Regions from separate parts of the Homo sapiens genome. Here region 2 is linked to region 1. Evidence: fine-mapped expression QTL. A gene starts in region 1. The other region holds a variant in brackets. All regions are shown on one strand. Distances are from middle to middle. Region 1 holds the start of TYK2 (tyrosine kinase 2). Region 2 overlaps TYK2 (tyrosine kinase 2).

What was found.
Region 2: its variant is fine-mapped to the expression of TYK2 in whole blood (TOPMed, PIP above 0.99).

What each region holds. Positions count from the first base shown.
Region 1 is chr19:10,376,858-10,388,499 of GRCh38, reverse strand. It overlaps TYK2 (tyrosine kinase 2), which reads left to right and starts at 7,928. Exons shown (of 25, transcript NM_003331.5): 1 at 7,928-8,120; 2 at 8,721-8,885; 3 at 10,074-10,286. The coding sequence starts at 10,094. RefSeq lists enhancers at 1,908-1,967, 2,048-2,437, 7,299-7,962, 7,871-8,030.
Region 2 is chr19:10,347,241-10,358,189 of GRCh38, reverse strand. It overlaps TYK2 (tyrosine kinase 2), which reads left to right. Exons shown (of 25, transcript NM_003331.5): 16 at 52-187; 17 at 272-426; 18 at 1,472-1,622; 19 at 3,581-3,678; 20 at 3,956-4,148; 21 at 4,544-4,662; 22 at 5,092-5,264; 23 at 5,639-5,756; 24 at 7,028-7,138; 25 at 7,222-7,657. The coding sequence ends at 7,356. Among named protein-coding and RNA genes, the nearest start is that of ICAM3, 13 kb to the right of the region's middle. RefSeq lists a silencer at 4,229-4,278 and an enhancer at 4,180-4,943. The variant C/T (reference allele first, on the strand shown) is at 4,488.

The DNA of each region.
Region 1 (11,642 bases):
AATAATAATAATAATAATTTTTGTTCATCATACACATTTTGGTGTTAATTTCAGTTTTTCAAAATACTGCATTCCTTGTTATTGAAGATTTTGTTTGTATTTTGTGAGACTGAGTCTCACTCTGTCGCCCAGGCTGGAGTGCAGTCGCATGATCTCGGGCTCACTGCAACCTCTGCCTCCCAGTTTCAAGGGATTCTCCCTCCTCAGCCTCCCAAGTAGCTGGGATTACAGGCGCACTCCACCACACCTGGCTTTTTTTTTTTTTTTTTTTTGAGACAGAGTCTCACTCTGTCGCCCAGGCTGGAGTGCAGTGGCATGATCTCGGCTCACTGCAAGCTCCACCTCCGGGGTTCACGCCATTCTCCTGCCTCAGCCTCCCGAGTAGCTGGGACTACAGGCGCCCGCCACCACACCCGGCTAATTTTTTGTATTTTTAGTAGACACGGGGTTTCACCGTGGTCTCGATCTCCTGATCTCGTGATCTGCCCTCCTCGGCCTCCCAAAGTGCTGGGATTACAGGTGTGAGCCACTGTGCCCGGCCCTTTTTTTTTTTTTTTTTTTTTTTTTTTGTGAGATGGAGTCTTGCTCTGTCGCCCAGGCTGGAGTGCAGTGGCCTGATCTCAGCTCACTGCAAGCTCTGCCTCCCGAGCTCACGCCATTCTCCTGCCTCAGCCTCCTGAGTAGCTGGGACTACAGGCGTCTGGCACCACGCCCGGCTAATTTTTATGTATTTTTAGTAGAGACGGGGTTTCGCTGTGTTAGCCAGGATGGGTTTGATTTCCTGACCTCATGATCCACCTGCCTCAGCCTCCCAAAGTACTGGGATTACAGGCGTGAGCTACCGCACCCGGCCTAATTTTTGTATTTTTTGTAGACACAGGGTTTCACTATGTTGGCCAGGTTGGTCTCAAACTCCTGACCTCAAGAGGACTGCCCGCCTTGGCCTTCCGAAGTGCTGGGATTACACACATGAGCCACCATGTGTGGCCCCCCCCTTTTTTTTTTTTAAGAGATGGGATCTGGCTCTGTCACCCAGGCTGGAGTGCAGTGGCACAATCATAGCTCACTGCAGCCTCTAACCTCTGGGCTCAAGTGATTCTCCTGCCTCAACCTCCTGAGTAGCTCAAATTACAGCCAAGAGACACACACTGCATCTGGCTATCCACCACCAGTCCTTTTATTTATTTTTTTTTTGAGACCGAGTCTTGCTCTGTTGCCCAAGCTTAAATGCAGTGGCACGATCTCGGCTCACTGCAACCTCCATCTCCCAGGTTCAAGCGATTCTCCTGCCTCAGCCTCCTGTACAGGCATGCACCACCACACCTGGCTAATGAAGTGTATTAACTCATTTGATGTCCCTGACATGCCTCTGGGTTTGGGACTAAATAGTCACATCTTGCAGAGGAGGAAACTGAGGCACAGTGGGGTTAAGGGGCCGCCCAGGATCACACAGTGATGGAGCTGGGGCTTGAACTCAGCCCGTCTGGTGCCAGCCTTCATGTGTGTAAGTTACTCCTCTGTATCCTCTCAGGCCAGCACCGAGTGTCCCATTTGGGGCTGCTCCTGAGAATTTTCTAGAGAACACAGGTTCACACACGTGCCCAAAGGAGCGTAGAATTTTTGTGGAAAGATTCCCAGGAGGCTGAGTGCGGTAGCCTCATGCCTGTAATCCCAGCACTTTGGGAGGCCAAGGCGGGTGGATCACCTGAGGTCAGGAGTTCGAGACCAGCCTGGCCAAGATGGTGAAACCCCGTGTCTACAAAAAATACAAAAATTAGCTGGGCGTGGTGGCAGGCGCCTCTAATCCCAGCTACTCGGGAGGCTGAGGCAGGAGAATCCCTTGAACCCAGGAGGCAGAGGTTGCAGTGAGCCAAGATCGTGCCATTGTACTCCAGCCTGGGCGACAAGAGGAAAAACTCTGTCTCAAAAAAAAAAGATTTCCCAGGAAATCCATCTCATGGTTGTTTTGAGGAGGAGACTGGCTGTTCCCTGAACTTTCTCACTCATGAAAACACAAAGGTATTTTACTTTTAATCCATCAACTCTTGGCTTTTCCCAGGTCCCAGGGGGCTCTGAGGAGGCCCCTCCCTGCAGCCCTTGCAGAGCCAGGGGAAGCCCCCAGCTTTTGTTCCTTCTGAGAAACCCGCCGTAGTGGCGTGGCCAACTGTCCTGGCCTGCCCAGGACTGTCCCAATTTTAGCATGGAAAGCCCCCCATTGGGGAACCCCCTCAGTCCTGGGAAACCCCCTCCTGTTAGTCACATGTGGGGTCTGGGGCCTCCCTTATGGACCAGGTCTGAGTTTGGGCAGGAGGCGCCAGGCCTTGGCAAAACAGCCTCCTTAGCCTCTTTTCTTCAATTGTCAAGTGGGGGTGCTGATACCACTTGCAAAGAAACTGAGAAGAGGCCAGGTGCAGTGGCTGGTGCCTGGAATCCCAGCACTGTGGGAGGCCGAGGCGGGCGGATCACGAGGTCAGGAGATCGAGACCATCCTGGCTAACCCTGGTGAAACCCCGTCTCTACTAAAAATACAAAAAATTAGCCGGGTGTGGTGGCGGGCACCTGTAGTCCCAGCTACTCGGGAGGCTGAAGCAGGAGAATGGCATGAACCTGGGAGGTGGAGCTTGCAATGAGCCGAGATCACGCCGCTGCACTCCAGCCTGGGCAACAGAGTGAGACTCCATCTCAAAAAAAAAAAAAAAAGAAAGAAACTGAGAAGACCCAGAGATGGCTAAATACCCACGCTCGGCCCCAGTGTGCAGGCTGGGAAAATGTCAGCTTTATTTATTTATTTATTTATTTATTTATTTATTTATTTATTTGATAGGGTCTTGCTCGGTTGCCCAGGCTGGAGTGCAGTGGTGCGATCACAGCTCACTGCAACCTCAACCTGTGGACTCAAGCGATCCTCCCACCCCAGCCTCCCTAGTAGCTGGGACTACAGGCGTGTATCACCATGCCCAGCTAATTTTTAAATTTTTTTTGTAGACACGAGGTTTCACTATGTTGCCCAGGCTGGTCTGGGACTCCTGGGTTCAAGCGATCCTCCTGCCTCTGTCTCTCAAAGTGCTGGGATTACAGGTGCCAGCCACCGCACCAGCTCATTGTTAGAATTGATATCGTTACTGGGAGTATGACTAGCATTGTTATTATTAATCGCCTCATGTGGCATTTCCTTCTAGTTCCTTTGGGAGCGGGGAATACCGGGTCCCAGGCCCACTCGGCCCACTGTGTTCTAGCATCTAATCACGGAGCATTGCCCCAATGGCTGTTGAAAAATCTGGCACTCTCTAGGCCGGGCACGGTGTCTCACACCAGTATTACCCAGCACTTTGGGAGGCCGAGGTGGGTGGATCACCTGAGGTCGGCAGTTCAAGACCAGCCTGACCAACATGGAGAAACCCCATCTCTACTAAAAATACAAAAAAGTAGCCGGGCGTGGTGGCGCATGCCTGTAATCCCAGCTACTTGGGAGGCTGAGGCAGGAGAATCGCTTTAACCCAGGAGGCAGAGGTTGTGGTGAGCCGAGATTGTGCCATTGCACTCCAGCCTGGGCAACAAGAGCGAAACTCCCTCTCTCAATAAAAGAAAAAAGGAAAAAGAAAAATCTGGCACTCTTGGCTTCTAGGTACTGTACTCTAAGCGGCGACAGAGAGGAAGCTCACAGCCAGCCCTCCCGCAGCAGGCAGGACAACAGCCAGGGATTCCTGGCTCCCAGGCCATTCATTCCCCTCCAGCTGTGGCTTCTTAAGCCACCTACTGGGCTGGATGCACAATCTCAGGCACTGAGGGCTTAGCAGACAACCAGACGGACCTCTTTCTGGTGCGGTCCTAGAACCGCAGACAGGCAATAGAACTTGTGCTCAAAGAAACTTCCCAGGGGCTGGGCACGGTGGCTCATGCCTGTAATCCCAGCAGTTTGGGAGGTCAAGGCCAGAGGTCCACTTGAGCCCAGCAGTTTGAGCCCAGTAGTTTGAGACCAGCCTGGGCAACATAGTGAAAACCCATTTCTAAAAAAATTACACACACACAAAAGTTAGCCAGCCGGCCAGGCGAGGTGGCTCACACCGGTATTCCCAGCACTTTGGGAGGCCAAGGCGGGAGGATCACGAGGTCAGGAGATCAAGGCCATCCTGGCCCACATGGTGAAACCTCGTCCCTACTAAAAAATACTAAAAAATTAGCCGGGTGTGGTGGCATGCGCCTGTAATCCCAGCAGTTTGGGAGGTCAAGGCGGGAGGACCACTTGAGCCCAGTAGTTTGAGACCAGCCTGGGCAACATGGTGAAAACCCATTTCTTTTCCTTTTTTTTTTTTTGAGATAGAGTCTCACTCTGTCGCCCAGGCTAGAGTGCAGTGGCGCGATCTCAGCTCACTGCAAACTCCGCCTCCCAGGTTCAAGTGATTCACCTGCCTCAGCTTCCCAAGTAGCTGGGATTATAGGCACCCACCAACACACCCGGCTAATTTTTGTATTTTTAGTAGAGACGGGGTTGGTGGAAGCCCATTTCTATAAAAAATACACACACACAAAAGTTAGCCAGGCGGCTGGGCGCGGTGGCTCACTTCTGTAATCCCAGCACTTTGGGAGGCCGAGGCGTGAGGATCATGAGGTCAGGAGATTGAGGCCATCCTGGCCAACATGGTGAAACCCCATCTCTACTAAAAAATACAAAAAAATTAGCTGGGTGTGGTGGCACACGCCTGTAATCCCAGCTTCTCTGGAGGCTGAGGCAGAAGAATCGCTAGAACCTGGGAGGCAGGGATTACAGTGAGCCGAGATCGTGCCACTGCACTTCAGCCTAGCAACAGAGCAAGACTCCGCCTCAAAAAAAAAAAAGTTACCCAGGCATCGTGATGCACATCTGTAGTCCCAGCTACTCAGGAGGCTGAGGTGGAAGATTGTGAATGGTGAATCTGGGAAGTTGAGACTGCAGTGAATTGAGATCACAGCACTGCACTCCAGCCTGGGCAACAGAGCGAGATTCTTGTCTCAAAAAAAAAAAAAAAAAAAAAAAAAAGAAAGAAAGAAAGAAGAGAAACCCAGCTGGGCGCGGTGGCTCACATCTGTAATCCCAGCACTTTGGGAGGCCAAGGCGGGTGGATCACCTGAGGTCAGGAGCTCGAGACCAGTATGGCCAACCTGGCCAAACCCTGTCTCTATTAAAAATACAAAAATTAGCCAGGCGTGGTGGTGCACGCCTGTAATCCCAGCTACCGGGGATGCTGACGCAGGAGAATTGCTTGAACCTGAGAGGCAGAGGTTGCAGTGAGCCAAGATTGCGCCACTGCACTCCAGCCTGGGCAACAGAGCAAGACTCTGTCTCTTTAAAAAAAAAAAAAAAGAAAGAAACTTCCCATGAAATGTCAGGTTGCAATAAGGACTCTGAAGAAAATACAGCAGAGCCCAGGAGGTCAAGTTGCCCAGGCTGGAGTGCAGTGGTGTGATCACGGCTCACTGTAGCCTCAACCTCCTGGGCTCAAGCAATCCTCCCACCTCAGCCTTCGGAGTAGCTGGGACTAACTAATTTTTTTTCCCCCCGAGATGGAGTCTCACTCTGTAGCCCAAGCTGGAGTGCAGTGGTGGGATCTCAGCCCACTGCAACCTCCACCTCCTGGGCTCAAGCGATTCTCATACTTCAGCCTTAGACTAATTTTTTTTATTTTGGGTAGAGATGGGGTCTTGCTATATTGCCCAGGTTGGTCTTGAACTGGGCCCAGACAGTACTCCTTCTTTAGCTCCCTGAAGTGCTAGGTTTATAGGGATGAGCCACTGCATCCAGCCAGGACAAGTCTCTATCAGCATTTTATTTTATTTTATTTTATTTTATTTTTGAGACAGAGTCTCACTCTGGCGCCCAGGCTGGAGTGCAGTGGCGCAATCTCGGCTCACTGCAAGCTCCGCCTCCCCGGTTCACGCCATTCTCCTGCCTCAGGCTGCCACTACGCCCAGCTAATTGTTTGTATTTTTAGTAGAGACGGGGTTTCACCGCCTTAGCCAGGATGGTCTCGATTTCCTGACCTCATGATCCGCCCACCTCGGCCTCCCAAAGTGCTGGGATTACAGGCGTGAGCCACTGTGCCCGGCCTCTATCAGCATTTTCTTTCTTTTTCTTTTTCTTTTTTTTTTTTTGAGACAGAGTTTAGCTCTTGTTGCCCAGGCTGAAGGGCAATGGTGTGATCTCGGCTCACTGCAACTTCTGCCTCCCAAGTTCAAGCGATTCTCCTGCCTCAGCCTCCTGAATAGCTGGGATTACAGGTGCCCACCACCATGCCCAGCTAATTTTTGCATTTTTAGTAGAGACAGGGTTTCACCATGTTGGCCAGTCTGGTCTTGAACTCCTGACCTCAGGTGATCCGCCCGCCTCCACCTCCCAAAGTGCTGGGATTACAGGTGTGAAAGAGACCATTCCCGATCTCTTTCAGCATTTTCATACTGAATGTCCACAGCTGCCCTGTGAGGAGGCTTTTTACCCATATTTTCTGACTCAGAGAGAAGCAGCCACATGTCCCTTGGCCATGGCAGTTAAGACCAACTCCATGGAGCTGGGTGTCTTAGCTCACATCTGTAATCCCAGCACTTTGGAAAGCCAAGGCAGGATGATTGCTTGAGGCCAGAAGTTCAAGACCAGCCTGGGCAACATAGCCAGACCCCATCTCTACAAAAATTTAAAAATTAGCCACAAAATTTAAAAATTAACAACAAAAGGGCCGGGTGCGGTGGCTCACGCCTGTAATCCCAGCGCTTTGGGAGGGTGGATCACGAGGTCAGGAGTTCGAGACCAGCCTGGCCAAGATGGTGAAATCCCATCTCTACTAAAAATACAAAAATTAGCCGGGCGTGGTGGCGGGCGCCTGTTGTCCCAGCTACCCAGGAGGCTGAGGCAGGAGAATCGCTTGAATCCGGGAGTCTGAGGTTGCAGTGAGCCGAGATCGCAGCATTGCACTCCAGCCTGGGCGACAAGAGCGAAACTCCATCTTAAAAAAAAAAAAAAAAAAAAGTGGAAGATGAGGAAGTTGATCAGACATCAAGGATGAGCGGATGACTTAATAGGCTTCTTTGCTAAGACTTGGCTGGGCAGGTGAAAGACAAAGTCGAGGAGTGGTTATGGTGTGGCACAGAAGAAGGGTCAGAGGACGGTCTTTGTTACCTCTTCATGCCTGAGTTTCTTCCTCTGTGAAATGGGGATAATAAGAGCCGCCATACAGGGAATTGCTGCTAGGATCAAATGAGATAATGTATGTGAAACGCTCTGGCTGTAGGCTTCTCAGCAAATGGGCACGACTTGCGGAGTGGGGATTTGAATTCACGTCTGGCGGGATGTCCAAGCTGCTACCCTGACCGCTAGGGAGCTTCAGAGGACAGGGCTGCAGGTGATCAGGAAGAGGACTGGGGCAGGTGGGCGAGGAATGCCTCCCAGGAGTGAAGGAGGGGGAATTCTAGTCAGCAGGATGGAGTCGGCCAGGTAGAAACGAGGGAAAGGAGACAGGACCGGATGGAACGGGGAAGCCAAAGGGCAGGGCGTCGGAGGGTTGAATGGTGGCCGGTGCAGCTTTGAACACCGAGGTGAGGACATGCAGCTGTGTCCTAGGGTCAGGACCGTACACGCCTGACCCAATTCCACAGCACGGAGGGGAACTCCAGGATCCGGCCGCGTTGCCCACACACTTCGCTCTCCCTCCCGCCTCTCGCAAGCCCCTCCCCCGTCTCCGTCCACCGAGTGCCAGCCAATAGCAGAAGCGACAGCGCATCTGGGTGCCGACTCAGCCAATCGCGGCTGAGTGACGAATGAGCCCCAGGACCAATGAGAGTGCCGCCACCATGGCAAAAAAAAAAAAATCCAATGGTGACGAGCAGGGAGAACAGAGCAGCTGCCAATGGGCGTGTGCGTTTCAGGCGGCCAATGGGAGGAGGCGTCTCGGCGGGGGACAAGCAGTAGCTACCCGCGGGAGCGGGGAGGGGTCCGGGTTCGAGCTTGTGTTCCCCCGGAAGGGTGAGTCTGGACGCGGGCGCGGAAGGAGCGCGGCCGGAGGTCCTCAGGAAGAAGCCGCGGGGACTGGCTGCGCTTGACAGGCTGCACTTGGATGGGAGCACCTGGTGCCTCGGGACTGCTCCGATGCCCGGTGGGTGCACATCCCAGTTCCCGCCGTTGCCGGCCGGGTTTAGAGGTTTTGGGGGGAGGACATGGGGGCGTGCAGCCTTCCCAGTTGCAAACTTCACTCCGACCCTGTCTTCAAAGCTGGGTCTGGGTCCAGTGGGGACGAGAAAGGAGGAAGGAGGAAGTAGGCTCCGCGAAAGCCCCATCCCCGGGATCTCATCTATAACATGAATAGGTATTAATGGCAAAGGCTAATTAAGCGCTTACTGTATACCAGGCACTTTCTCTGCCTCCTCGCGTTAAATCCTCCCAGCAGCCTTTTGAGGTAGACACTGTTACATGCCCATTTTCCAGATGAGGAAACCAGCAACATGGGTGGAAGTGACAGCCCCTCCACTTCCATACTGGCGCCCTCAGGAGGCTCAGGCCCTGGATTGGGGGGATGGAGCTGGACATAAACTCTCCTAGGCTTTGGGGAGTCAACAGGGACTGAGGTCACTCATGGGGGTAAATGTGGGAGAGGAGAATTGTGGCCTGAAAGAGGCCATCACCACGATGAAACTAATAACAATTATGTTATTCTTGTTTTGGTCATATTTGTTCTTTTTGTGTGTGCCTGAATCAGGGTCTGTGCTGAATGTGTAATATGCGGAACTATATTGAAACATTACAACCATCTTTTGATGGCAACACCCTGAGGACCTCCCTTTTCCAGATGGGGAAACTGAGGCCCAGAATTGCTAAGTGGCTTGCTTGAGTTGACACAGGGAGCTCCAGGACTCACCCTCAGGTATGTTTGACCACATCTGCCTGTCTGGTTATTTTGGGGAGGTGTGTTAAGAGCAGATTTTTATTTTACTTTTTATTTATTTATTTATTTATTTATTTATTTATTTATTGTATTTTAGTAGAGATGGGGTTTCACCATGTTGGTCAAGATGGTCTCAATCTCCAGACCTCGTGATCTGTCCGCCTTGGCCTCCCAAAGTGCTGGGATTACAGTCATGAGCCACCGCGCCTGGCCCTTTTTATATATTTTTATTACTTATTTATTTATTTATTTATTTATATTTTTAGAGTCAGGGTCTCACTCTGTCACCCAGGCTGGAATGCAGTGGTGCGATCACTGCTCACTGCAGCCTCCAACTCCTGGGCTCAGGAGATCCTCCCACTTCAGCCTCCCGAGTAGCTTGGAGTACAGATGTGCACCCCCACGCCTGGCTAAATTTTAAAAATTTCTTGTAGAGGCCGGGCACAGTGGCTCACGCCTGTAATCCCAGCACTTTGGGAGGCCGAGGCGGGTGGATCACCTGAGGTCAGAGGTTCAAGACCAGCCTGGCCAACATGGCAAAACCCTGTCTCTACTAAAAATACAAAAATTAGCCCGGTGTGGTGGCAGGCGCCAGCTACTCAGGAGGCTGAGGCAGGAGAATCACTTAAACCCAGGAGGCAGAGGTTGTGGTGAGCAAGATTGTACCATTGCACTCCAGCCTGGGCAACAAGAGTGAAACTCTGTCTCAAAAATAAGATAAGATAAGATAAGATAAGATAAGATAAGATAAGATAAGATATAAAATAAAACGTCTTGTAGAAACAGGGTCTTGCTATATGGCCTAGGCTGGTCTCGAGCTCCTGGGCTCAAGCAATCCTCTTGCCTCAACATCCCAAAGTCCTGGGATTAGAGGCGTGAGCCACTGTACCTGGCCAGAGCAGATTTTTATATCTGTGTCAATTTGTGGAAAGAGAGGAGGGTTCAGTGTTATTGTTGATGAGAGATCTAGGTGGGGATGCATACCCCAACCCTGTCCAATAAATGTGGAAAACGAGACTCAGAGAGGGAATCGGGTCTCTAATGTCATGCCAAGATGGGAGCCCAGAATCTTCCCCTCAGGCCTTAGCTGGGGTGGGTGGAAGGTTGAAGAGCTAACAGGGGTCTCTGGGCTGAGACTTGGGAGCTGACAGATTGTCCCCTTTCCAGCTGAGCCACCTGCCGGGAGCATGCCTCTGCGCCACTGGGGGATGGCCAGGGGCAGTAAGCCCGTTGGGGATGGAGCCCAGCCCATGGCTGCCATGGGAGGCCTGAAGGTGCTTCTGCACTGGGCTGGTCCAGGCGGCGGGGAGCCCTGGGTCACTTTCAGTGAGTCATCGCTGACAGCTGAGGAAGTCTGCATCCACATTGCACATAAAGTTGGTGAGTCTGGGGCGTTGGCACCATGGGGACTGGGGTGGGTGTGCAAGCAGCAGCTGGGCCCCATCCATCCGTCTATCCACCCACCCACCCATCCACCCACCCATCCACCCACTCATCCATCCATCCATCCATCCACCCATCCACCCACCCATCCACCCTCCCAACCACCCATCCATCCACCCACCCACCCATCCATCCACCCATGCATCCATCCATCCTCCCATCCACCCATCCACCCACCCATTCACCCACCCATTCACCCATCCACCCACCCTTTCACCCATCCACCCATCCACCCATTCATCCACCCACCCACCCACCCATCCATCCACCCACGCATCCATCCACCCACCCACCCACCCATCCATCCACCCACGCATCCATCCATACATCCACCCACCCACTCATCCATCCACCCACCTATCCACCTATCCATCCACCTACTCACCCACCCATCCACCCACCTATCCACCCACCCACCCATCCACCCATCCATCCACCCACCCATTCATCCATCTATCCATCCATCCACCCATCGATCCATCCATACCCACCCATTCATCCATCCACCCATCCATCCACCCACCCATCCACCCATCCATCCACCCATCCATCCATTCATCCATCCATCCATCCACCCACCCACCCATCCATCCACCCACCCACCCATCCATCCATCCATCCATCCACCCACCCACTCACCCACTCACCCACCTATCCATGCATCCATCCATCCACCCACCCATCCATCCTCCCACCCATTCATCCATCTATCCATCCATCCATCCATCCATCCATCCATCCATCCATCCACCCACCCACCCACCTATTCATCCATCTATCCATCCATCCATCCATCCATCCATCCATCCATCCATCCATCCATCCACCCGTTCATTCGGTGAACATTTTGTAAGCATCTACTGTGTGGCAGCTGCAAATCACTGCCTTTGTAGAGCTGAAATTTTAGTAGGGAGGACAGCAAGAAATATAATAAATCAGAAAACTTGGCCAGGTGCAGTAGCTGACACTTGTAATCCCAGTACTTGAGGAGGCCCAGGCAGGAGGATTGCTTGAGGCCAGTAGTTGGAGACCAGCCTGGGCAACATAGGGAGACCTTGTCTCAACAAAATAATTTTTAGAAATTAGCCAGGCATGGTGGTACATGCCTGTAGTCCCAGCAACTTGAGAGCCTGAGGCAAGAGGATCGCTTGAGCCCAGGAGTTCAAGCCTGCAATGAGGTATGGTTTCGTCACTGCACTCCAGCCTGGGTGACAGAGTGAGACCCAGTGTCATTAAAAAAAGAAAGTCAGGCCGGGCGCGGTGGCTCATGCCTGTAATCCCAGCACTTTGGGA
Region 2 (10,949 bases), 30 kb after region 1:
GGCGTCTGTGCCTCTCCTGAGTGGCCACACCCCCTCTCCTGCCCACCTCAGGAGAACAAGAACCTGGTTCATGGTAATGTGTGTGGCCGGAACATCCTGCTGGCCCGGCTGGGGTTGGCAGAGGGCACCAGCCCCTTCATCAAGCTGAGTGATCCTGGCGTGGGCCTGGGCGCCCTCTCCAGGGAGGGTGAGTACCTGAGGGGACCTGGGCACAGTGGGGGGCTTCCCCTGCTCCTTTCACCCTTGGTGACCTCTGACCTTGGCCTCCCAGAGCGGGTGGAGAGGATCCCCTGGCTGGCCCCCGAATGCCTACCAGGTGGGGCCAACAGCCTAAGCACCGCCATGGACAAGTGGGGGTTTGGCGCCACCCTCCTGGAGATCTGCTTTGACGGAGAGGCCCCTCTGCAGAGCCGCAGTCCCTCCGAGGTATGTCTAGGAGACCCTTGGGCCCTCCCCGCAGTGGGGGCCCCTCCAAGAAATCCAGAGGACAGAATCAGAGCTCAAAGCTGCATCCCTTCTGGCCTCGTGACTTCAAGTCTCTCTGGGCTACCAGCAGGTGGGCCACTCGCTGGGGCTCAATGTAGTCCCAGCCTTTTTAGGTCCTTGTGGAAGTCACTTGTGCCTGGCACACAGAAGGCAAGTAAGAGACTTGATTTCAGTTTTAGGCAGAGTGACCAGGGCAGCGATGGGAGACGCCCAGGCTGCAGAGTGGGGAAGAAGGGCTGAGGATGCGCCTCACCCAGCAGTGGGGTCAGACAAGGCTTCCCAAAGGAGGTTCATGAGTGTGGTGGTTTTATTTTGAGACGAAGTTCCACTCTAATTGCCCAGGCTGGAATGCAATGGCGTGATCTCAGCTCACTGCAACCTCTGCCTCCTGGGTTCAAGCGATTCTCCTGTCTCAGCCTCCCGAGTAGGGGGGATTACAGGCACATGCCACCACACCCGGCTAATTTTTGTATTTTTTGTAGAGATGGGGTTTCATTATATTGGTCAGGCTGGTCTCAAACTCCTGACCTCAGGTGATCCGCCCACCTCGGCCTCCCAAAGTGCTGGGATTACAGGCATGAGCCACAGTGCCCGGCCCCAGAAGAGGTTTTATCTAAGTGTAGAATTATGCCAACAAGCCTGGCTAGGAAGGGCAGCCTAGGCAGAGTGCATGGCCTGTGCAAAGGCTGAGGCTTCAGTGTATTAAGGAGCTGTGGTCTACAGGAGGGGCAGGAGGGAAGCTTGGGGCAGGAGGCTGACTGTGACACTCCAGCTCTGCATAATCACTGGACCTGGGTCCCAGTCCTGGTTCTACGGCTGTGAGCACGTCCTCCCACTTTGTGGAGCCTCAGTTGCCTCATCTGTATAATGGAACTGATAAGAGCGGGCACCTGGCGGTCCACTCTGGGGACTTGACTCTGCCTCTTGGGGAACGGGTTGGGGGCGAGGGGAGGATGTTGACTCCTCTGGGTCCCTTTCCCAACAGAAGGAGCATTTCTACCAGAGGCAGCACCGGCTGCCCGAGCCCTCCTGCCCACAGCTGGCCACACTCACCAGCCAGTGTCTGACCTATGAGCCAACCCAGAGGCCATCATTCCGCACCATCCTGCGTGACCTCACCCGGCTGCAGCCCCACAGTGAGCTCCATCCCAGTGCTGGGACCCTGGGGAAGTGGGACGGGGCTGGGATCCCTGCTGTATGCCTATAGCGCACGAGAGGTCTCTGCACAGTGGTTCAGGGTGTGTGCCAATTTCTTGCAGTGGCATTCATAAGCATGCCCTGCCTGGCTGCCCTGAGCTCTCATTAATGTATTTATTTATTTATTTGCAATGGAATCTTGCTCTGTCACCCAGCCTGGAGCGCAGTGACGTGATCTTGGCTCACTGCAACCTCCACCTCCCAGGTTCAAGCAATCCTCCCACCTCAGCCTCCCAAGTAGCTGGGATTACAAGCGTGTGCCACCATGCCCGGCTAATTTTTGTATTTTTAGTAGAGGTGGGGTTTTGCCATGTTGGCCAGGCTGGTCTCAAACTCTAGACCTCAAATGATCTATCTGCTTCAGCCTCCCAAATTGCTGGGATTACAGGCGTGAGCCACTGCGCCTGGCCTCCTTAATGTTTTGTCTGGGGAGAGACACAACTTCTTTGGATTAGAGAATTAGACCACTGCAGTTTTTTTTTTCTTTTTAAAAAAGTTTTGTATTGTTCTCTTTAAAAAATTAATATGCTCTTTTTTCTTTTTTTTGAGACGGAGTCTCACTCTGTTGCCAGGCTGGAGTGCAGTGGTGCAATCTTGGCTCACTGCAACCTCCGTCTCCCAGGTTCAAGTAATTGTCCTGCCTCAGCCTCCTGGGTAGCTGGGACTACAGGCGCCCACCACCACGCCGGGCTAATTTTTGTATTTTTAGTAGAGACGGGAATTCACCATGTTGGCCAGGATGGTCTCAGTCTCTTGACCTCGTGATCCACCCGCCTCGGCCTCCCAAAGTGCTGGGATTACAGGCATGAGCCACTGCGCCTGACCTATTTTCTTTTTTTTTTTCTTTCTTTCTTTTTTTTTTTTTTGAGATGGAGTTTTGCTCTTGTTGCACAGGCTGGAGTGCAATGGCACGATCTCGGCCCACTGCAACCTCCGCCTCCTGGGTTCGAGCAATTCTCCTGCCTCAGCCTCCCGAGTAGCTGGGATTACAGGCGTCCACCACCACACCCAGCTAATTTTTGTATTTTTAGTAGAGACGGGGTTTCACTGTGTTGGCTAGGCTGGTCTCAAACTCCTGACCTCAGGTGATCCACCCTCCTCAGCCTCCCAAAGTGTTGGGATTACAGGCGTGAGCCACCACGCCCGGCCTAATATGCCATTTTCAACTGGTCATATCACATTTTTCTTTCTCTTTTTTGTTTTAAAGACTAGGTCTTGCTGTGTTGCCCAGGCAGGAGTGTGGTGGTTATTCAGAGGCACGATCATGGCTCACTGCAGCCTGAGACTCCTGGGCTCTAGGGATCCTCCTGCCTCGGCCTCCCAAAGTGCTGGGATTACAGGTGTGAGCCACCACGCCTGGCCAGTTTTTCTCTTTTCTCTATGAAATATCTGTGCCCTCTACCCAATCTCGGAACTTCCAGATGTCAGGTTTTTCTGTTTTTTCTTTTTCTTTCTTTCTTTCTTTTTTTTTTTTTTAAAGACAGTGTCTCTCTGTGGCCCAGACTCACTGCAGCCTCAAAACTCCTGGGCTCAAACGATCCTCCTACCTCAGCCTCCTGAGTAGCTGGGACCACAGGCATGCACCACCACACCTGGCTAATTTTTTTTTTTAACTTTTTTGTAGAGAGGGGGTTTCACCATGTTGTCCAGGCTGGTCTTGAACTCCCGGGCTCAAGTGATCTTCCCGCCTCGGCCTCCCAAACAGGTGTCAGTTTTGATGCAGCCAACTCTGCATCATTTTGTACAATAAGTGGACTCTTTCAGCTGTTGCAGGAAAAAGTTTTCTTACCTCTAGAATCGGATCCTGGGGTAGCTGTGGCTGGCTTTGTGACTCCCAAGTGTGGGCCTGCTGGGGAAAGGATCGGGGTCAGGCCTTTACCCACCGCAACTCTTCCAGATCTTGCTGACGTCTTGACTGTGAACCCGGACTCACCGGCGTCGGACCCTACGGTTTTCCACAAGCGCTATTTGAAAAAGATCCGAGATCTGGGCGAGGTGAGGGACGGGCCTGAGCTGCTAAAAGGCCCGCCTGGTCGGGAAGGAGTTTGGGGGTTGAGGATAAATTCCTACCTAAGGTGATTCTCAGGAGATGTGGGTGGGACCCTCTGCTTTGAGGGAGGCCTAGGTGCCAAGGAGTCTTAATAGAGCGGAGTAGGCGGGGCCTGGGGTATTCCGAAAGGATCTGCCTGGAGGAGTGGCCCGGGAAATCGGGGGTTGGGGAGTGGTGCAGGGATTGGGGAGGTGGAGCTGACCCTCGTGCGCTCCCGACCAGGGTCACTTCGGCAAGGTCAGCTTGTACTGCTACGATCCGACCAACGACGGCACTGGCGAGATGGTGGCGGTGAAAGCCCTCAAGGCAGACTGCGGCCCCCAGCACCGCTCGGGCTGGAAGCAGGAGATTGACATTCTGCGCACGCTCTACCACGAGCACATCATCAAGTACAAGGGCTGCTGCGAGGACCAAGGTGGGCGGGACCCGGCGAGTCCTAGAGACTTGAGGGGGCGTGGTTAGAGCGTGGGTGTGGCCTTGTGGGCGGGGCCAGTCTGGCCTAGCCAATTAGAGACTCTCAACCCCAGGCTGCAGTACGCGGTTCTTGGCATCTGGGTGAGCGTGGCTGGGCTGCCTCCTTCCCATCTGGGGGGTGCTACCTGCTGGGGCCAGGATGGACGGGAGCCACCAGCAGCTCCCTCAAGTGAGAATGGGGTTCTGGATGGGTCCATCCCACCTGAGAACTGGGTCTAGTGTGCGCGGGTCTTGGCCTTCCCTCCCGACCTTGGAGGGGCTCTGCTGGGCTCAAGGTAGG[C/T]GGTCCCCGGCCCGCCCTCTATCGTCCCCCACCGGGGCCGCCCCTCTCCGCGGCAGGCGAGAAGTCGCTGCAGCTGGTCATGGAGTACGTGCCCCTGGGCAGCCTCCGAGACTACCTGCCCCGGCACAGCATCGGGCTGGCCCAGCTGCTGCTCTTCGCCCAGCAGATCTGCGAGGTTGGTCGGCCCCGCCCCTGCTTCTGGAGCTTGCCCCTTCCTCTTCAGCTTGGGCTGGCCTGAGCGATCCGGTGCAGTCTGCTCTCACGCTCCGCCCCTGCTCGTTTGCCCAGGCTGTCTTGTCCTTGCACTGACCTCCGAACTGTTTGGCTTGCTTGGCCACACCCCCTCCTCCCAAGGGACCACGCACAGCCGGCTCGGCCCCTCCCAACTCGCCCTCCTGCCCAGCTTTGCTCGTCTAGCCCCGTCCCTGCTTTCTGGCTCAGCCTCCTTTTGCTTGGTGCCACGTGCCATCCGGCCCTCTCCAGCGGCCGGGTAGCCACCGGCCTGACCTGACTGTCCCCCAGCCCTCCTGGCTGCTCAGGTCCTGCCGCCGCCCCCGGCCGAACCCCGCCCCACTGAAACTCACGAGCCCTGCCCCGTCCCCAGGGCATGGCCTATCTGCACGCGCAGCACTACATCCACCGAGACCTAGCCGCGCGCAACGTGCTGCTGGACAACGACAGGCTGGTCAAGATCGGGGACTTTGGCCTAGCCAAGGCCGTGCCCGAAGGCCACGAGTACTACCGCGTGCGCGAGGATGGGGACAGCCCCGTGTTCTGGTGACCAGGCGGGGTGCAGTCTGAGGGGGTGCTGGGGTCACTTGGAACAGGCAGGGTGGAGTAGACGGATGCTGGGTATCATGATAGGGCATGATCCCAGTGAAGCGCGGCGGGGCCTAGCGGTGCGGGGGTGGGGCCTATGGAGGCAAGGGGCGGTGTATAGAGTGCGGCTTGGCCTGGTGGGCGGGGTTAACCCGGCCTAGCCAATGAGCGGCCTAGCCAATGAGCATATCACCCCGCTCAGGCTGCGCTCTTAAGGGTGGGTCCCAACTGAGCCCAGAGGGTCCTTCAGTCTCAGGTGAGGGCTTCAGCCTGGTCTGATCCCCAAGCCCTCAGTGCAGCCCCCCGTGGCCTGAGTGCCCCCCTCCCCCTAGGTATGCCCCAGAGTGCCTGAAGGAGTATAAGTTCTACTATGCGTCAGATGTCTGGTCCTTCGGGGTGACCCTGTATGAGCTGCTGACGCACTGTGACTCCAGCCAGAGCCCCCCCACGGTGAGAGCCAGGCCCGCAGCCCCACCGGGAGTTTGCTAGAGCAATTAGAAAGGCATAGGCTGGGCCAGGCGCGGTGGCTCAAGCCTGTAATCCCAGCACTTTGGGAGGCCGAGGCGGGCGGATCACGAGGTCAGGAGATCGAGACCAACCTGGCTAACACGGTGAAACCCGTCTCTACTAAAAATACAAAAAAAATTAGCCAGGCGTGGTGGCGGGCGCCTGTAGTCCCAGCTACTCAGGAGACTGAGGCAGGAGAATGGCATGAACCCGGGAGGCGGAGCTTGCAGTGAGCCGAGATCTCCCGACTGCACTCCAGCTGGGTGACAGAGCGAGACTCCGTCTAAGACAGGACAGGACGGAGAGAGAGAGAAAGAAAAGAAAGGAAAGAAAGGCATAGGCCGGGCGCGGTGGCTGACACCTGTAATCGCAGCACTTTGGGAGGCCGAGGCGGGCAGATCACGAGGTCAGGAGATCGAGACCAGCCTGGCCAACATGGTGAAACCCCGTCTCTACTAAAAATACAAAAATTAGCCGGGCGTGGTGGCAGGTGCCTGTAATCCCAGCTACTCAGGCGGCTGAGGCAGGGAGAATTGCTTGAACCCGGTAGGCGAAGGTTGCAGTGAGCCGAGATCATGCCACTGCACTCCAGCCTGGGTGAAAGAGCGAGAGACTGTCTCAAAAAAAAAATTCTGGACGGTAAGAACAATCTGCTGTGAGGCTTAATAATAACGGCAAACACCTGACTCACGCTTACTCTATGAATATTAGTTTAACGTTCACAGTAATCCCAGGTGGCAGATGTTATTACCCTATTTTACGGATGAGAAAACAGGCCCAGAGAAGTGAACTCAAATTCAAAGTCACACAGCTGAGAAGTGTAAGAGGTGGGATTGGAACCCATGCAGTCGATTTCATGAAGTTGCAGAGTGATTTCTTTTTCTTTTTTGAGATGGAGTTTCACACTTGTATCCCAGGCTGGAGTGCAATGGCACAATCTCGGCTCACTGCAACCTCCGCCTCCCAGGTTCAGACGATCCTCCTGCCTCAGCCTCCCAAGTAGCTGGGATTACGGGCGCCTGCCATTATGCCCAGCTAATTTTTGTATTTTTAGTAGAGATGGGGTTTCACCATGTTGGCCAGGCTGGTCTCGAACTCCTGACCTCAGGTGATCCACCCACCTCAGCCTTCCAAAGTGCTGGGATTACAGGCATGAGCCACCGTGCCTGCCTTTCATTGCCTCTTGAAAAGAGCTTGTCTTGTTTATACTGTAGAAATTCCTTGAGCTCATAGGCATTGCTCAGGGTCAGATGACAGTTCTGAGACTCACTGAGTTGCTGGAACGAGGGGAGAGGCTGCCACGGCCCGACAAATGTCCCTGTGAGGTGAGACTTCCTTTGTCTTTCCCTGACCCCACTATCCTGCTGTGGAGAGGGCAGCCCCCACCAGCCCTGGTTTTTCCTTCTAGGTCTATCATCTCATGAAGAACTGCTGGGAGACAGAGGCGTCCTTTCGCCCAACCTTCGAGAACCTCATACCCATTCTGAAGACAGTCCATGAGAAGTACCAAGGCCAGGCCCCTTCAGTGTTCAGCGTGTGCTGAGGCACAATGGCAGCCCTGCCTGGGAGGACTGGACCAGGCAGTGGCTGCAGAGGGAGCCTCCTGCTCCCTGCTCCAGGATGAAACCAAGAGGGGGATGTCAGCCTCACCCACACCGTGTGCCTTACTCCTGTCTAGAGACCCCACCTCTGTGAACTTATTTTTCTTTCTTGGCCGTGAGCCTAACCATGATCTTGAGGGACCCAACATTTGTAGGGGCACTAATCCAGCCCTTAAATCCCCCAGCTTCCAAACTTGAGGCCCACCATCTCCACCATCTGGTAATAAACTCATGTTTTCTCTGCTGGAGCCTGTGATTTTTGGAGCCCTCTTCAAGAAAGCTGGGTTAGCTGGGAGTCTGGTCTCCTGTGGACAGCAGCTAGCATGAGACAGCGCAGAGGTGGCTGGATTCAACTGTTTAACTTTTTTTTTTTTTTCTTTTTGAGACAGAGTCTTGCTCTGTCGCCCAGGCTGGAGTGCAGTGGCGTGATCTAGGCTCACTGCAAGCTCCGCCTCCTGGGTTCACACCATTCTCCTGCCTCAGCCTCCCGAGTAGCTGGGACTACAGGTGACCGCCTCCATGCCTGGCTAATTTTTTGTATTTTTAGTAGAGTTGAGGTTTCACCTTATTGGCCAGGCTGGTCTTGAACTCCTGACCTCAGGTGATCCACCTGCCTCCGCCTCCCAAAGTGCTGGGATTACAGGTGTGAGCCATTGCGCCTGGCCAATAACTACTTGTTGAATACACAAAGTATTTGGTCGGGGCGGTCACAAGCCACATAGATTAGACTGCCAGTTTCACCCTTTCACATTTGTGTGACCTCAGGCTAATGGCTTCACCTCTCTGGGCCTTAGTCCTCCATTATGGGAGCTTCACACTTGCTATCTCATAGGACTCATGTAAAGAGCTCATGAGGTGGTGTCTGTGAAATGCTGAGCAGAAAGACATGCAAACAAGTGCTTAATAAATATACAATATTGGCCGGGCACGGCAGCTCACGCCTGTAATCCCAGCACTTTGGGAGGCCACGAGGATCACAAGGTCAGGAGATTGAGACCATCCTGGCTAACACGGTGAAACCCCGTCTACTAAAAATACAAAAAAATTAGCCGGGCGTGGTGGCGGGTGCCTGTAGTCCCAGCTACTCGGGAGGCTGAGGCAGGAGAATGTCATGAACCCAGGAGGCGGAGATTGCAGTGAGCCGAGATTGCACCACTGCACTCCAGCCTGGGTGACAGAGAAAGACTCTGTCTCAAAAAAATAATAATTAAATAAATAAATATACAATATTATTGTTGACTGGATGCAGTGGCTCATTGCTTGTAACCCCAGCACTTTGGGAGGCTGAGGCAGGAGGATCCCTTGAGTCCAGGAGTTCGAGACCAGCCTGGGCAACATAGGGAGATCCTGTCCGTATTTTTATTTATTTATTTATTTGTTTATTTATTTTTGAGGCAGTTTCACTGTTCTCCAGGCTGGAGTGCAATGGTGCTATCTCGGCTCACTGCAACCTCCCCCTCCTGAGTTCAAGCGATTATCCTGCCTCAGCCTCCGGAGTAGCTGGGATTACAGGCGCACGCCACCACACTCGGCTAATTTTGTATTTTTAGTAGAGACGGGGTTACATCTTGTTGGTCAGGCTGCTCTCAAACTCCTGACCTCAGGTGATCTGCCCGCCTCGGCCTCCCAAAGTGTTGGGATTACAGGCGTGAGCCACTACACCTAGCCTATATTATTTTAAAATAAAAATTTTAAAAATGAAGTTGGCTGGATAGAGTGGCTCACGCCTGTAATCCCAGCACAGCACTTTGAAAGGCCAAGGCGGGCGGATCAGTTGAGGTCAGGAGTTTGAGACCAGCCTGCCCAACATGGCAAAACCCTTGTCTACTAAAAATACAAAAATTAGCTGGGCATTGTGGTAGGCGTCTGTAATCCCAGCTACTTGGGAGGCTGAGGCAGGAGAATCACTTGAACCCAGGAGGCAGAGGTTGCCATGAGCCAAGATCAAGCCATTGCACTCCAGCCTGGGTGACAAGAGCAAAACTCTGTCTCAAAAAAAAATAAAAAAAGACACATGCACACGTATGTTTATTGCGGCACTATTCACAATAGCAAAGACTTGGAACCAACCCAAATGTCCATCAATGATAGACTGGATTAAGAAAATGTGGCACATATACACCATGGAATACTATGCAGCTATAAAATAGGATGAGTTCATATCTTTTGCAGGGACACGAATGAAGCTGGAAACCATCATTCTCAGCAAACTATCACAAGGACAGAAAACCAAACACCGCATGTTCTCATTCATAGGTGGGAACTGAACAATGAGAACACTTGGACACATGGCAGGGAACAACACACACCCACACCGGGGTCTGTTGTGGGGTAGGGGCCTGCGGGAGGGATAGCATTAGGAGAAATACCTAATGTAGATGATGAGTTAATGGGTGCAGCAAACCAACATGGCACATGTATACCTATGTAACAAACCACATTGTGCACATGTACCCTGGAACTTAAAAAAAAAAAAAAAAAAAAGGAGTCTGAAACCATGAACAATCATCGTTATTTACCAAGTTTGTTCTTGTTGAGGAAAAAAATACAAAAATTAGCCAGGTGTGGTGGCACACACCTGTAATCTCAGCTACTCTAGAGGCTGAGGCAGGAGAATTGCTTGAACTGGAAGGCAGAGTGCATTGAGCTGAGATCGCACCACTGCACTCCAGCCTGGGCGATAGAGCAAGACTGTCTGAAAAAAGAAAAGAAAAAGGTATTATTGTTATTCTGGTGTTTGGCAAAGCGTTTCTACTTAGCCTGTGTGACTTGAGATGGTGGGTCAGACACATTTGTGAAAGGCAGTTAAATATCCCCAGAAGGACTTCTTTTGTGGGGCTGGGGACTGGGTCTCGCTCTGTCACCCACACTGGAGTACAGTGGTGCTATTATAGCCCATGGCAACCTTGACCTCCCAGGCGCAAGTGATCCTCCCACCTCAGCCTCTGTAGGAGCTGGGACTATAGGCTCCTGCCACGTCACCTGGCTAATTTTTTTTTTTTTTTTTTTTTTTTTTTGAGAGGGAGTCTCACTATGTCACCCAGGCTGGAGTGCAATGGTACGGTCTAGGCTCAGTGCGACCTCCACCTCCAGGGTTCAAGCGATTCTCCTGCTTCAGCCTCCCCAGTAGCTGGGATTACAGGCGCCCGCCACCACGCCTGGCTGATTTTTGTATTTTTAGTTGAGACAGGATTTCACCATGTTGGCCAGGCTGGTCTCGAACTCCTGACCTCAGGTGATCCACCCACCTCAGCCTCCGAAAGTGCTGGGATTACAGGTGTGAGCCACCATGCCTGGCCATCTGGCTAATTTTAAAATTTTTTGTAGACACAGCGTCTTACTCTGCTGCCCAGCCTGGTCTCAAACTCCTGGGCTCAAGTGATCCTCCCACCTTAGCCTCTTGAGTAGTAGGATAACCACTCAATTTGTTTAGAGCAGTTTTAGGTTTACAGCAAAGTTGAGTGGAAAATACAGAGTTCTCCTATATCCCCTCCCTCCCATCCCCCTGCACAACCTCCCTTGCTGACCTATCCTG